Regions from separate parts of the Homo sapiens genome. Here region 2 is linked to region 1. The links come from fine-mapping of genetic effects on gene expression. Tissue or cell type: aorta. Region 1 holds a variant in brackets; the other region holds the start of a gene. All regions are shown on one strand. Distances are between the middles of the regions.

Evidence for each region. PIP is the estimated chance that this variant, and not a neighbour inherited with it, causes the effect.
Region 2: XRRA1 starts here. The variant in region 1 is fine-mapped to the expression of XRRA1 in aorta (GTEx, PIP 0.97).

The regions. Positions count from the first base shown.
Region 1 is chr11:74,027,615-74,035,719 of GRCh38, forward strand. C2CD3 (C2 domain containing 3 centriole elongation regulator) reads right to left here. Exons shown (of 33, transcript NM_001286577.2): 31 at 5,737-6,664; 32 at 673-784. Among named protein-coding and RNA genes, the nearest start is that of UCP3, 23 kb to the left of the region's middle. The variant G/A (reference allele first, on the strand shown) is at 3,180.
Region 2 is chr11:74,944,701-74,952,805 of GRCh38, forward strand. It overlaps XRRA1 (X-ray radiation resistance associated 1), which reads right to left and starts at 4,391. Exons shown (of 19, transcript NM_001378157.1): 1 at 4,228-4,391; 2 at 318-385. It overlaps SPCS2 (signal peptidase complex subunit 2), which reads left to right and starts at 4,566. Exons shown (of 5, transcript NM_014752.3): 1 at 4,566-4,699. The coding sequence starts at 4,586. RefSeq lists enhancers at 3,759-4,613, 4,111-4,160, 4,281-4,340, 4,471-4,690, 4,614-5,468 and 1 more.

The sequences.
Region 1 (8,105 bases):
TTTTGCTCATTATTTGTGCTCCATGAAGATAGGGAATTTGTCTGTCTTATTTACTACTATATGCTCAGTATCCAGCATGACACCTGATACAGGGTAGGTACTCAAAAGCAGTTATTATTAAGCAGTTATTATTATTGTTTATTTTCTTGGTACTTGCAAGAAAGTTCAGGTGCTCTGCCAAGGCAGAAAAGAGGAGATGTGGGATTTGTACCAGAGTTCCAACCACCTACTTCAGCTGAATGAATAGTTATGAGGTGTTTTGTAAATGGCAAATAGTTGTACGACTGATATTATTCTCCTCATCCAGATCTTACTGTTGTACTCCCGTAAGGTTGCATCTCCGCTCCTATCTACCTGCTTGGTGGGGACTCCCACAGCACTCAATACACATTTCTTAGCTGCCTCTTGCTTTCATGCTTCTGCACAGCTTTTTTCTTCCCCATGTCAGTCTTGGCTGACAATGCCCTGCTCTTGCATATTTGCTCTTCCTCACTTTTCCTGAGCTCCCTGCCCACTGCTGGGCCCACAGAATATGCTCAGTACAAACTTGAGGAGTGACCCCTGCTGCAGCCTTTCCAGGAAGATGACCTGGGGCAGCTCTGCATTCTGTGCACACTTCTGTGGAAGAGATGATGACTCTATAGAAGAAAGGTCAGTTGGCCATTCTCTTACCTGATCTGTTGTGGCTGCTGGTGGCAAAGTTGCTGAGAGTGAAAGCATCCGCAGGGAAGCCTCCAACTGCTGGGGAGGCAAAAAGAAGTTGGGCACCACAATGGGCCCTGGGCTACAATGGTAGTTAAGGGACAAAAATACCTAGAAGTCCACCCCTCTTGCAGTGGAGGCCAGCATCTCCACTGACCATTCACTCTGCCCCCACTCATGTTTTTCCCTCAACTATTCTTGTCCATAAATTCTTTGCTCAGCTGGCTCCCTCTGACTGGAAGGCTTGCCCACTCCTAACACATATAAGTTTTTTATGGATCAGTTCAAATCCGGCCTCCTCTAGGAAGCTTTCTCTTAATCTTAGCCCCACAGTGATCCCTCCTTCCTCACATCCTAGAGCAGTCTGCAACACAGGAGAATGCTTAATTATTTAGTCTGATATGATTATTTTCCTCAATCTTCCCTAAATTTCTCAATGGCACAGACAGTTTCCTTCTGTTACCTCTACTTCCTGAAAGCCCCTCAGGAGGCTGGCAGGTAGCAGGCGTTGAATGATTCTTGCCTAAGGGCCTGCTAGTTAGAAAAAGACCTATTAGAAGTCAGTCAGGGGATGTGGGGATTGGGATGTGGCTCCAGGGGGCAGTGCCTTAGGCTGCATTTAGGTGCCCTGCACTGAAGGAGGGCCTGCTTGCCTATTTTCTCTGCTCACATTCAGAAATGAGAGCTCTGCATCAGGGGCTGTCCATGACGGGACATGTCCTCATGTCAGGGACCAGTACAGCTGGTCCAATCTGGATGTGAGCCCTAGAAGGCAGGTACTGTTATCTTGCACTTCTCCTCCGTATCTTCTTGAGGTGCTCAGTGCTGTGTTGAGAATATGGTGTTCTACAGGTATTTTTTGAATCAAATCACTGATTCAGTTTAGTTGAACTCTGAAGGGGGTAAAGAGGGGACTATTTTGATGTTCCAATTTTTTGTTTCTGTTTAATAAGTATGGTTCTCACTCCAATTTGCTTACCACATTTCCTATTTTATCGTCGTTCTTCTACATTAGACTCTAAACTTCAAGAAGGCAGAGATGATCTGTCTTTCATAACCATATTCCTGTCACCTAGCATAGTACCTGGGAGACAGTAAGTACTCAATAAATATCTTGTGAATGAATGAAATGCATTGATTTCTTGCTTTGGTTCAAGTCCCTGATTTTTCTGTAGAGAGGTGGGGGAGGAATGGAGATCCCGAAGGGAAAGACCCTTTGACTCCAGGCCTTCTGCAGAGGCCCAGGTGAGGTAGGATCTATTTGCTGTTGCTGAAACTGCTGGGGACTGCCAGACAGCCAGCTGATGCTGTGGGGAAGAAAGAACTTTGCTGTGAGGTGTCAGGGCTGGCTCTGAAGCATGGAAGTCTCTTTCCCAGCCCATTGCCTCATGTGTGCTTTAGGGTCCTGCTCCAACAGGCACTTTCTCCCACCAACTTTTATTTTGTTATGTTTTTTGAAACAGGGTCTCACTCCCATTGTTCAGGCTGGAGTGCAGTGGCGTGATCATGGCACACTGCAGCCTTGACCTTCTGGGCTCAGGTAATTCTTCCACTTCAGCCTGCAGAGTAGCTGGGATTACAGGCACATGCCACCATGCCTGGCTAATTTTTGTATTTTTAGTAGAGATGGAATTTTGCCATGTTACCCAGGCTGGTCTTGAACTCCTGACCTCAAGTGATCCTCCCACCTTGGCCTCCCAAAATGCTGGGATTACAGGTGTGAACCACTATGTCTGGCCTCATGAACTTTAAATTCCTGTTCCTCAGTTCATAAAAATGTTCAAGTTTCCCATTTAGGGAAACAAACAAACAACCCCCTGACCTTGCATTGTCTTCTAGTTACCACCCAGCTCTCTGTCACTTACTAGATGGATAACTTCAGGAAAGTTCACTTTTTGTGCCGCAATTTCTCCATTTTTAAATGTATTAGTACTTATTGTTTTAAGGATTAAATGAATTTATATATGTAAAGTGCCTAGAATGGTGCCTCGATAAATGTCAGCTATTCTTATCTCCTCAGTTTATGTGAAAAAGTTGTCTGTTCTCACTGTCCTCACCATTAGCTGCTTTGACTAATGAAGTCTGGCTTCCATTCCCACCACTGTAAGGTCCTCCTTAACACTAAAACCAGTGATACATGTCAGCCACATTCTCCCGGACCTGTGTGCAGCGTCAGTGCTGACCACGACGTCCTGAAACTCTGCAGCATCTGCTCCTACGGCACCTCTCTCTCCGCTGCTTCTCCCACCTCCTGACCAGCTCTCCTCATCTCCTTTGTGGGCATGCCCTGTCCTGCTTCTCTTTGCACACTGGAGATGCTCAGAGTCTGCCTCTGTGTGTTTGGTTCCCCCTTCCCAGGCTCTTCTTGCTGCCCTCATCGACTCCCAGAGATGCCTACCTTTATGGCTGAGCTCAGCCCTCAACTTCACTCCTCCTGCATCTCCTCCTGGATGTCCTACAGGCACATGCCCCAAACG[G/A]CAATCTGCATCGTCTCCCAAACCTGTCTATGTGCTGTTTCCTATCCAGTAAATGATATCACCTGCCGGGTAACTTGTGACAGAAACCTCTAATTACACTTTCTATTTCCTTTGTCTCATCCCCTGCCCCTCTATCTAATCCTCTCAGATCTGTTCCCCTCGTCTTCATCATAAAGCAGTCTATACTTCAGGTCAGACTTTCTTCATCTCTTGTTATTATTGCAAGTGTCCTAACTAGCCTCCTTGTTTCTAGTCTTCCCTTACTTAACCTGCTCTCTACAAGGCACTGGGTGACTTCTTTTCTCATATGTACATCTGACCATACCACACTCTTGCTTAACAGTGAACACTATTCATGTACCAGGTATTGTGCTAGGCAGTTTACATGATTATTTTCATTTTCATTTTCACAACAACCCAGTAAGTACTATTATCACCTCCATTTTACAGATGAGGAAAGTGAAGTTTCTTTGCTTTAGAATAGAGTCCAAGTACCTCAGCCAGGTATAGAAGTCCTTTAAGATCCAGGCCTTGCCTCACCTCGCACCATCCCCTCATCCCTGGACTCTAGCCACAGTGAACTACTGCCCACAGGCAGCCTCCTTCACCCAGCGAGGCCTCTGCACACACAGTTTGTCCTGACTAGAACTTTTCCTTGTCTCTATTGCACAATGCCTATTCATCTTTAAGGCCTGGCTCTCCTGTCTCTCTTACTGGGATGGCTCCAAGTAGAGTTAGGGCAGCTCCCTCCTCATGGTCCCTCGCGTTCTGTCCACATCTCATCACAGTACTTGGCACAATAAACTGTCAGTATCTATCTACTTGACTGTCTCCTATCTCATAATGGGAACTTCTCGAGGTAAGGTCTCATTCAAATCTGTCCTTGGCACCCAGCACAGGGCCTGGCACGATTTATTTTTGAAAGAATAGTCAGGAAGGCCTAAGTTAAAGCAGCACTTAGGGTCTGGGCACATGTGGCATCTCCTCCATCGGCCATATTCTGAGCACAATTAATACTGACTGCAAAGGCAGCAACATTAGGGGCCAGGATCCAGGATGGGCAAGGCCAGGGAGAACTGCACACAAGGAGGTCTATTTTCAAAGCTCAGCCTCCAGCCATTGCATGCTTTAATCCTTTCCTGAGCCCACTCTCCCACCCCTAGGTTTTTCTCTGATCTGCATCAAGAATCATACTGTGTGGTGTGTACAAATGTTTCCACTCATTTGGTTTTCTCAACAATGTTGTGAAACTGTGATAGTTCAATCCAATCTACATTTACCAATCCCTTCTCTGTGTAGTGCTAGGTCCTGAGGATGCAGAAAAAGACAAGGTCCCTGACCTGGGGAGCTTATAATTTGGTGGGTAAGGGATTTCCGCCTCCATTTTACAGGTGAAGAAACGTGCACATAAAGATTAAACTATATGTCTATAATCACAAAAATAATTTTGTGGGTCTAGAAGGGTCAAAGTCAGGCTCCCTGACTTCTAGTAGAGGAAGATCTCTAGTCTAGTAAAGCAGCCTGCTTCACCTGCCAGCCGTACAATATTCCCTGCTTGTTGGGATAGCAGGTGAGCTGATCTGATCAGCTGGTTAGGCTACAGGTGTGAAGGCTGTAGATGGTCCTAAGTGGTTTCCTTTCCCCATAACATGCCAGTCTGTGTTTAAAAGGAAGGAGTGGGGAATGTCAGGTGCCCCCTGTTCCCATCAACAGTACCTTACTGGGGACTTGGGAAAGTCCATCTCCATGGTGCCTGTTTAGCTCCATCACTTCCTTTTTTAAAAAAATTTAATCTGGCCAGGCGTGGTGGCTCAAATGCTCTAACTGCAGCATTTTGGGAGGGTGAGGCAGGAGGATTGCTTGAGGCCAGGAGTTTGAGACCAGCCTGGGTGACACAGCAAGACCCCAACTCTTAAAAAAAATTAGCTGGGTGTGATGCTGCATACCTGTAGTTCTAGCTACTTGCAAGGCTGAGGTGGGAGGATCACCTGAGTATAAGAATCTGAGGCTGCAGTGAGGTATGGTAATAACCTTGTACTCCAGCTTGGGTGACAGAATAACCTGTCTCTTAAAAAAAAAAAAAGGCAAGTCACAATAACTGAGCATCAGTTTCCTTATATATGCAAAATAGGGATGATACCTACCTAAAAGACTTGTGATGACTGAATGAAAAATGTACATAAAGTGCTCAATGGCAGTGATTTTCTTTCCTCTTTCTCTAGACCCTCTGCTTCTCTTTCAACTGATAAATAGTCTCATTCCTTAGATCCCAAGCCTTGCCTTCAGGTGGTAAAATACCCAACAGATGAATTGGATAAATCAGGGTAGGCTAGGCTAATGTGCTACGAATGCCTAAACCCAGTTCAAGGCATTATGTTTCTGAGGGCTGGTGTTAATGGTAAAACTGTAGCACCTGTCATGCAGGTGGGGTCTTCTGAAGGAATGGTCTTTCCATGCCCCCTAGTGCATTCCATGAGGGTGGCCACTTGCTCACACTCACACTAGGCTAGTCTAAGTACCTGCATCCAAACCACTTGTGGGAAATGCCAAAGGATACAGCAGGAGGCTCTGCTTTGTGGACGTCTCTGATCCAGTTGTCACCTGCCTCTGCCTGATGTCAGAGGAGTCGATGGGTGGTCCCTTATGGTTTTCCCTTCTGCTCTGGGAGGCTAGATTTAGCGGCAACTTCTTGAAGCTATCAGCAGAGTCACCGAGCTCACTGGTGGCAGCTTCATTCTCAGCTGGGGCCTCTGACTTGGGCTCCTTGTTCTGATCTGTCTGTGGTGAGCTCCATCCAACAAACGTGCTGCTCTGTTGAGCTCCTGAGAGTGTTGGGCATGGGATGGGCTGAGGGTTGGCTGAGGCAGACTCGCCACCAACCCTGGCCTTAGAGGCCTCACACTCACAAGCAACAAGACTTTGGCTAGGAGAACCCTGCCTAGGCAGGTGGGGGTTGACAGCCCTTTCTGGGCTGGAGAGAAAGCTACTTTTGACCATAAGCTCCTCTCTGCAGAAAGGCCCTGGAGAAGGACAAGAGGGGCCTTCCCTCTGCACCTCGTCAGGCTGAGGGCTGATGACCTCACTTGTGTCTGATATGACACTAGACCAAGGGCTAGTTTTGTCTGTCACCGTGGTGATCTCATTTAAGGTCCTGGGCTCAATGATGTCTTCTTCATAGTCCTCATCACTGTAGGCTGGGCCTGCCTCAGTGTCTTCACTGCTCTGCATCCTTGTAATGGGTACTGCATGCCTCAGGGACTCATGGAGCATTCTTCCTCCATTTGAAGTCTCTTCGAGAGGAGGGGGTGATGGGGAATCTGTGCCTTTATCTGGAGCTCTTACCAATGGCTCATCTGGCATTGTGCATCGTTCTTGCAGTGCTTCTGTGTCCTGAGCATCTGGGAGGGTGGTGGCCTTGTTGCTTCTACTCCTGGCTCGGTGAGAACTCAAAGCTGCTTGCGAATCCCTGGTGATAGTCTGCAGATCTGAACAGCAACACATATCACTCTTATTACAAGGTAGGGCCACAGACCCCTCAAATTTCCCACACTAGCCTTTAGCTTCAGAAGCACTATGGCAATCAGACTCTGAACAAACCATAAAGAAAATTAGTCCACCCAAGATTCAGTGAGACTATATTCAAGGCGGTACAATTTTTAGTACTTTATTCTAATATCAGAGGACCAGAATCTAATCTATAGTTGTGGATACATCTGTGGAAATGCTTTCAGAGACTATCTGCTCATGCTCAGGAATCGTTGGGAGCTGGGAGTCCTGGTGGGCATGTTCATGCTTCCAGTTACTTCAGTAACTACCTATATTAAAAATCAAAATGAGAATCCACTTATTTACCTATTTGATGACAGTTATTAAAACTACCTATTTTACTTCGAAAATAAAAGCAAGGAAATATCTATCACCCATATGATAAGGCAGGGAAGATTTACACAGAAAATAGAAGCAGCAAGGTATGTTGGAAAGAGCATAGGCTTTGGAGCCGGTCAATCTTGGGTTCGAATCTCTGTTGTCACTTGTTAACTTTGTGATCATAAGCAAACCATCCTCTCTGAGCCTATTGATCTGTACAGTGTAATCAACACCACCCACTTCATAAGGTTACAGTAGAGAATACACGAAAGAAATGGGCATACACTGTGTGGTGAATATATAACCACTTAATAAACAGAAGCTACTAGTCATCTCAAATTATTTTTGGGATGGAATGGGAGTGAATCAATTAATAAATAGACCCAGTAAATGATACATGTTTGCAAGATTATTTGAGAGGAGAAAATTAGGAACTGAAGGCAAATTTGATTCCTGGGGAATAGGGGTCACATCTCCCTCACAGCACCTAACAGAGGGCTCACTCTACAGGAGGTGCTGGCTGTTTAATATTATACACTGATGATTTTCAGGCCTCAAAGGAATGGGTAGATAGACGAAAATGAAACATTACTACCTGTAAATAGGAATAGGCATGGGGAAGCATGTTTAGTTAATCCTAATCCTTTGGCCTGAACATGCTTTCTGTCTCAGAGCAGTCTTCTTGCTTTTTATAAACTTGCCCAGCCTTCAAGGCCATGTTCTATTGGATCTCCTCCAGGAGGCCTTCCCAGATTCACGAGTTAAATAAGATTGCTACATGGCTTTGTTCTATAAGGAAGCACTTAAGAATATGACACTGTGTAATTGTATGTTTACCCCATCAGACTGTGAGCTTCTCAGGGCATGAACCATATGTCTGAATCATGTTGTATCTCTAGGGCCTAGCCTAGCATATAGCTCTGGCTTAAAAAAAACCCCACTCAGTAACTCTCTCAAGTTTCACTCATATCCATTTGTCTGATGGCTTTGTAAAAACAGCATACTGAGGCATAATGGAGCATAATGGAGGCAGGGGCAGGCTTTTGCTGTTTTTTTTTT
Region 2 (8,105 bases), 920 kb after region 1:
TATTCACCTGTGTAATCCCAGCATGTAGCATAGAGCCTACGACTCACTAAAAATATGTTGGTAAGATTAATGGATAGATGGATGGATGGGGACAAATTTATATTCAGTCAATATGTCTTTCAGGAACTCTCTCTCATGACCAATCACACACATCTGCTAGAGGTAAATGAAAGAATGAATGAGTAACTTGCTGGCTGGAAAATGTTAGATGTGATGTAATTTGCTGGCTGGAAAATGTTAAATATGATGGCTGTTGGAGAAGCCTTCAGTAACTTACAGAATATGGTGACCTGGCTTCAGGTCTCCAGAGTACTTACTTGATCTTTGACTTTGGGAATGGCCCCTTAACTTCCTTTTTTTTTTGTTTCTTCACTTGTTTCTTTGCCTGTAAGATAAATATTATATTCCTTCTTAGCCTGCTATTCAGAGCTCTTGAACTTCCTCATTAATTATATTCTACTGTGAGCCTTCCACTCCAATATTTGTCTTGCCTTTAGTCCTTGCCCGTAGGACTAAGGATCCAAGAAACAGATAGATACCAATACAGAGATGGAGACAAAGACAAGACATAGATGGGAAGGTGGTATAGGAGAATATAATTATGATAGTGGGGTATGGCTGGAGTGCTTAAATCAGACACACGAAGCACAAACCTGAAAGGACGGGATCGTTTACATGATTATTTACACAAAATAAATTTCTGCCAGATAAAAATAGGAAAGTCAAAGTTGAAAGATAAGACACAGTCTGGGAAAAGATATTTGCCATGCATATAATACAAAAGATGACTCACACTGAAGCCTGTAGGAGGCATGCAGACCTGGATGCTATCGCAGAAATTCTAGTTCCCTATTAGGAATATTAGGTGAGAAGGTGTAGATCTACAACTAATGGGCCAAGAAGGGCACATAACCCCTGGTTACATTATCTAAGACAAGTAAGATCTTTATATGGTAGAAAAAAAAGTCAAAGTTCCAGATTTGGAGGCTGACTTCCTGGTTAGCTTTAGTTACCTCTGGTCTCCATCTCAAACTTGATGCAGCTAATGCCAATCTGACTGTAGCGCTTCCTCCAAAACAAACATCTCTCTTTCTCTCTCTCTCACACACACACACACAGAGTAAGGCATATTTTTGCTTGTTCCATTCCTTTGGCCTATCACATTTCTGCCCCTCTTCCTTGCCCGGCTACATACAGATTAGCTTTCCTGTATCTCCCTCTCCTTAGGCTGAGCCTCCTCAAGCCCACTTCTTTTTTTATTTATTTTTTCTTTTTTTCTTGAGACAAGGTCTCACTCTGTTACCCAGGCTGGAGTGCAGTGGCATGATCTCAGCTCACTGCAACCTCCACCTCCCAGACTCAAGCAATCCTCCCACCTTAGCCTCCCAAGTAGCTGGACCACAGACGTGTGCTACCATGCCCAGCTAAATTTCTATATTTTTGATAGAGATGGGTTTTCACCATGTTGCCCAGGCTGCCTCAAACTCCCAACTCAGCCTCTCAAAGTGTTGGGATTACAGGCGTGAACCCCCTTGCCCAGCCATCAGGCCCACTTCTTAATGGAGGCACTAACATGGTTAGGCTTTGTGTCCCCACCCAAATCTCATCTTGAATTGTAATCCCCATAATCCCCATGTGTTGAGAGAGAGACCTAGTAGGAAGTGATTGGATCAAGGAGGTGGTCCCCCATGCTGTCCTCACCATAGTGAGTGAGCTCTCACGAGATCTGATGGTTTTATAACTGACAGTTCCTCCTTCACACTCTTGCCCTCTCTTGCCTGTTGCCATGTAAGACTTGCCTCTTCCCTTTCCGCCATGATTGTAAATTTCCTGAGGCCTCCCCAGCCATGCAGAACCGTGAGTCAATTAAACCTCTTTCCTTTATAAATTACCCAGTCTTGAGCAGTTCTTTATAGCAGTGTGAAAATGGACTAATACAGGCACTATACCACACTGTATTATAATGCCTGCTTCCTTGTTTGTTCCCCACCTCACTACAGGCTGTGAGTATCTCCAAGGTCAGGTCAGGCCTGGGTCCTACTTACCTCTTTTTCTTTTTTTTTTTTTTTGAGACGGAGTCTTGCTCTGTCACCCAGGCTGGAGTGCAGTGTCGCTATCTCAGCTCACTGCAAGCTCCGCCTCCCGGGCTCACGCCATTCTCCTGCCTCAGCCTCCCTAGAAGCTGGGACTACAGGCGCCCGCCACCATGCCTGGGTAATTTTTTGTATTTTTAGTAGAGACGGGGTTTCAACATGTTAGCCATGATGGTCTTGATCTCCTGACCTCGTGATCCGCCCGCCTCGGCCTCCCAAAGTGCTGGGATTACAGGCGTGAGCCTGTACTTATCTCTTTATCCTGCATCTCACACAGGACCTGGCCTACTGAAGGAAGAGTCTCAATGATTGTTAATTGAACTAACCCAACCCATGAACAAAATGCCACAGGAGCACTTCATGCAGTGGGTGAAGAAAGAAGAAGCAAGTATCAGAAATAGTTTCACAGGGTAGGTGACATTAAAGCTGGATCTTGAAAGATGAGAAGTTGGCCTGGTGTGGTGGTTCATGCCTGTAATCCCAGCACTTTGGGAGGCCGAAGCAGACGGATCACTTGAGGTCATGAGTTCAAGACTAGGCTGTCCAACACGGCGAAATCCTGTCTCTACTAAAAATATAAAAATTAGCCAGGTGTGGTGGCATGTGCCTGTAGTCCCAGCTACAAAGACTACAGCTTGGGAGGCTGAGGCACAAGAACTGCTTGAACCCAGGAGGCAGAGGTTGCAGTGAGCCAAGATCCCACCACTGCACTCCAGCCTGGGTGACAGAGTGAGACTCTGTCTCAAAAAATAAAAAATAAAATAAAAAGTGACTAGGGCAATGCTGTATCATCTCACTTTATTTTAAATAAAAGAAAAATGAGAAGTTGTAAAAGATAAACTGCAACAACAAGCTACAGGGGATCTGACTAGTGTCCACGGATTGCTTCACAGAGGTAATGAAATATCATCTGATGTTATTGCTATTTAGTGATATTTATTTTCTTTTTAGTAATAATTTAGTTATTTAGTGATAATTATTTTCTTTTCTTTCTGATCTCGGCTCACTGCAACCTCCGCCTCCCCGGTTCAAGCAATTCTCCTGCCTCAGCCTCCCAAGTAGCTGGGATTACAGGTGCCCGCTACCACGCCCGGCTCATTTTTGTATTTTTAGTAGAGACGGGGTTTCACCATGTTGGCCAGGCTGGTCTTTAACTCCTGACCTCAGGTGATCCGCCTGCCTTGGCGGGGATTACAACCATGAGCCCCCACGCCCGGCCGAGATAATTATTTTCACATGAATTTTGGCTTCCCCAAGACAAGTTTTTGTCTGTTTTATTCAGGGATATATCCCTGGTGACTAGAATAGTGCCTGTTACATAGTAAGAAACTCAAAAATATTTGTTTAATTCTTTAGACGCTTATGGGGGATATATAGGAATTAAAAAACAATACAACGTAATAGAGCATGGTATAATACAATACTGCTATTTGATAACTCTGTCATGGAGTAGTAGTTCCACCAGAGTAGCAACCAGGTCTATCTTGATCCCCTGTATCCGTTAGTACAATATTGGTGCTCAATATACATTTGTGAAAAAAATTAATTAAAATACAACGTAATAGAGCATGGTATAATACAATACTGCTATTTGATAACTCTGTCATGGAGTAGTAGTCCACCAGAGTAGCAACCAGGTCTATCTTGATCCCCTGTATCCGTTAGTACAATATTGGTGCTCAATATACATTTGTGAAAAAAATAATTAAAATCTAGAATACTATTACATCCTAAAACCGTAAAAGCAGAGTGTCAGAAGGGATATATATTGGTTTTGATTTTTTTTAAATGCCGGCTTGAAAACCGAGTTCAGATACATGCTATCTGGCTTTGGGTAGGTTCTTTAGTTTCCTCCTCATCTAACAGGGCTGTTGTGGGACTCAGTGAGAGAGAGGATGGCTGGAAGTGCACATAGGATACTGCCTGGCAGACTGTAGGCACTCAGTAAACGCGAGTTCTCCGTTAACACGAAAACATTACAAACAGCTAAAATGACAGCTGCTTGAGAGAATAATCGGTAAGTGCCACAACCGGGCTAGAAAAGGATGAAGGACAAGCTCCTGCCCACTCCTTTGGAAACTCCACACCTGGGCCGGAGAAAGACTCGAATTCGAAAACTAAGTTTCAGTCGCACCTGCCTCCGGCGTCGCTTCAGCCTCCGAGGGGTCTGCGGAGGCGACGTCCCAGTCAGGAGGGATGCGCGCCTGCGAGCCCCCCGGGGATCTCGGAGCCGCTCCACTGCGGTGCCTGCCGCTATCTTCCCCACGCCTTAGTAACTGCGACGCGACGGCAGACAGTGTAGGCGGCAACCGACGGCCGGGACGTCTAACCTCAAGTCCCAGCAAGCCCCGCGGCCACGTCCTCTGACTACCTCGCGCCAGCAAGACCCAAACTACGGATCCCGATTGACTCCGCGCGGCGCGTCACGCTGTCAGCTCCAGCCAATCGGCTTCAGACAAGTCGGAGGGGAGGGAGACGCAGAGGCGGACAAGATGGCGGCGGCAGCTGTACAGGGCGGGAGAAGCGGTGGTAGCGGAGGCTGTAGTGGGGCTGGTGGTGCTTCCAACTGCGGGACAGGAAGTGGCCGTAGCGGCTTGTTGGATAAGGTGAGGAGCCGGTTCTTGGGAACAGTTGAATCCTGGGGAGGCCTGGGAGGCGGCGAGCCAACCTTCCCATCCCGGTCTCCCTTATTTTCTACGGCCTTTTGAGGGGAGCCCTTGTGTGACCACTATCACAACCCTACGCACGCTTGGAGCCTGCCCTTGCCCTCATCACACTTCAAACCTGGACCCGGTCCTCTTTAGAACTTCTTCTTTTCTCGCAAGTGTTCTGGTCCTGGTCGCCACACCTTTTTCGGTAATTTGATTTTTCCTATATTTAATCGTGTCCATCTCTTTTCTCCTGGGGGGCTGGGTGCACTGTTGTCAGTGCCCATTTCACAGACACGGAAAACCGAAGCCCAAAGATTAAAGAATCAGTATCCCCCAAACTCTCTACCACCATCACCCTTGCGTGCTGCTACAGATTCCAAAGTGCTTCTTGTCCTTTTGCTTACTGAAGTTTTTAGGCGTTTTATCATGATAGGCGAATACTGAAAATATTTGAGTATTGACTGTTCTACTGGGCTGACAAGAAGCCTTTAAGATTTTTCTTTTTTTCCTGTTGTTTTTCCCCGCCCTCTCCTCTCTTCCCTCCACCTCCCTCTTTGCTACCAAGTGCACTGCTGCCCGCTCACGCTTGCCCCTTTCCTCCCTCTGCTCATCCAAAAAAATTTTTTTTAACTGCAGTCCTAGCAACAAGGGTTTAAAAGAAAAGAAAAAAAGGAAAACTGTCCCTGGGTTGGCCTTTCTTGCTCTTTGCACAGCATCTTGGAAGAAACAGTTGCACGGAGAACAACGTCCTGGTGTTGATTTTGCCTCTAATTAGCTTTGTGACCTTGAAATATGCTTGCTCTCTCTATATCTGTTTTCTCATCTGCAAAGTGAGAGATTTAGCCTTAAAATGAGGGACTTAACTCTAAATTCCCTTCCAGTTCTCTCATTGTAGGGCCCTGGGCTGGTTTGATGAGAATTGTTAAGCATGGTGTCTTTAATATAGTAAGCAGAATTTTTGAATATAATTGAAAACAGCTTTCAGACTTCCCTGTGCATAACACATGGTAGGTGCTTAAGAAATGAAAACATGATTATGTTGAGGGGTTAAGATCCAGGTCTTTTTACTTGTCTTTTTGAGTGTCATTGGTTTTGAAAGACATGGTTCTCACACTCTTCTCTTGTGAGAGGGGTCACGCTCCATTGCCCAGAATGGATCTTAGCTCACTGCGGCCTTGAACTCTTAAGCTTAGGTGATCTTCCCACCCCAGCTTCCTGAGTAGCTGGGACTGCAAATGTGCACCACTATGCCTGACTAATTTTTTTGCTTTTAACTTTTCTGTAGAGTCAGGGTCTTACTGTGTTGCCCTGGCTGGTCTCAAATTCCTGGGCCTCAAGAGATCCTCCCACCTTGGCTCCCCAAAGTGCTGGGATTACAGGCATAAGTCACCATGCACCTGGCCTCACACTCAAACCTTAAGATACAGAAACATATTCTGGAGGTTGGGATGGTAAATTGCTTCAAGACATGTGAGAGTATGGGGAATTGATGGTCATTTGTGTACACAAATCCTTCCCTCTTGCTAGGTAAGCACCTCATAGCCTGTGCTTACCTGCCCCACTAACTGCTCTTGCTCTTCCTTGCACTTGGATCATCATCAGCAAACATTAAGTATGGGCATTCTGCTAAGGCAGTATAGAATACTATTATTATGGAATAGTGTATATGGCACCATTGTGTTATTGAAAGAACCCGGATGTGGGGATCATAAGATTTCAGCTTTGAAGTATTTCTGCTACTTGCTAACAGTATGAAGATTGGCAAGTCACTTAACCTTTCTTCATTTGGAATTTTGGAATCTCTGGCACCTAGATCACAGGGTTTTGGGAAGAACCAAGTAAGACAGTACACATTAATGATCTCCATTACCTGTAGTGTCCAGTACAGATGTGTGATGGTGGAGGAGTAAATCAAGAATCCTACTGTCAGAGAGCACTCAGAATAGCCAAATATAGGAGATGGGGTAATTGAATCTATTTAAGGAAGTATATGGTATATTCGCTCAAGTGTGTACTTGTTACGGAAGTTCAAATGAGAGAAATAGAGTGAACCCTGCGAGCTTATTGATAAGAGTAAGAGCCTCGGCCGGGCGCAGTGGCTCACACCTGTAAACCCAGCACTTTGAGAGGCCAAGGCAGGCGGATCACCTGAGGTCGGAAGTTCAAGACCAGCCAGACCAAGATGGAGAAACCCCATCTCTACTAAAAATACAAAATTAGCGAAGTGTGGTGGTGCATGCCTGTAATCCCACCTACTCGGGAGGCTGAGGCAGGAGAATCGCTTGAACCCGGGAGGTGGAGGTTGCAGTGAGCCGAGATCACGCCATTGCAGTCCAGCCTGGGCAACAAGAGGGAAACTCTGTCTCAAAAAAAAAAAAAAAAAAAGAGTAAGAGCCTGAAGGAAAGGCCTCATTCCTGAAAGTGGAACTGGCACCTTATTTGGGGGGAGAAAAGAAAGACATGCCAGGTAAAAAAGTCTCCTTGAGTAAAGTTACACAGATGTGATGGTGTTTTATGTTTCTCAGGTATTGAGTTGACTAGAAGGCTCTCTAAAGGAACTGTAGTGACAAGTAGATAGCATCTGATTAGGGAGGCCGTGGATTGCTTGAAGTAGAGGAAAGCTGTTGAAGGGTTTTGAGACTGTGTAAAGTGGTTTTTAGGAAAACTATTCAGATGGTTTGGAGAGACAGAAATTAGAAGACTTCTTAATAAGGCCGTATACACAGTAGTGTATAATATATAATAAAAAGAGACAAATTTGAGTTCTAGTGCCGCATGTTATTAGGTTGGTGCAAAAGTAATTGCTGTTTTTGCCATTGAAAGTAATGGCAAAAACCACGATAACTTTTGCACCTACCTAATAAAAGCCACATGACCTTGGATAAGTTGTGTGATATTACTGAATTTAAATTTCCTTATGTAAATATTGTGGACATTCATACATATTATAGGCTTGTTGTAAGGATCAAATTGTATAGTGCTGGTAAATGTTCTTTGGGTTTTTTAGTTTGGTTTCCTCTGCCCTTTTTATTTTATTTTTATTTTTATTTTTGGTAGAGACAAGGTCTCACTGTGTTGCCCAGACTAATCGTGAACTCCTGGCCTCAAGTGATCTGCCCACCTCAGCCTCCCAAAGTACTGGAATTACAGGCATGAGCCACCGCACCCAGCTCTGTTCCCTGTCCTTTGGAATCTACTAGAAGTAAATGTTCTTTGTAAAGGGCTGTCTGTGGTAAAAAATAGAATGACAAGGTGATGAGAACCCCAACATGAGTAGCAGAAATAGATAAAAGGTCTCACAAAAGAGTGCTTGGAAGATTTAACCAATAAGTGAGGGACAGAAGAGAATAGTCAAGAGCTG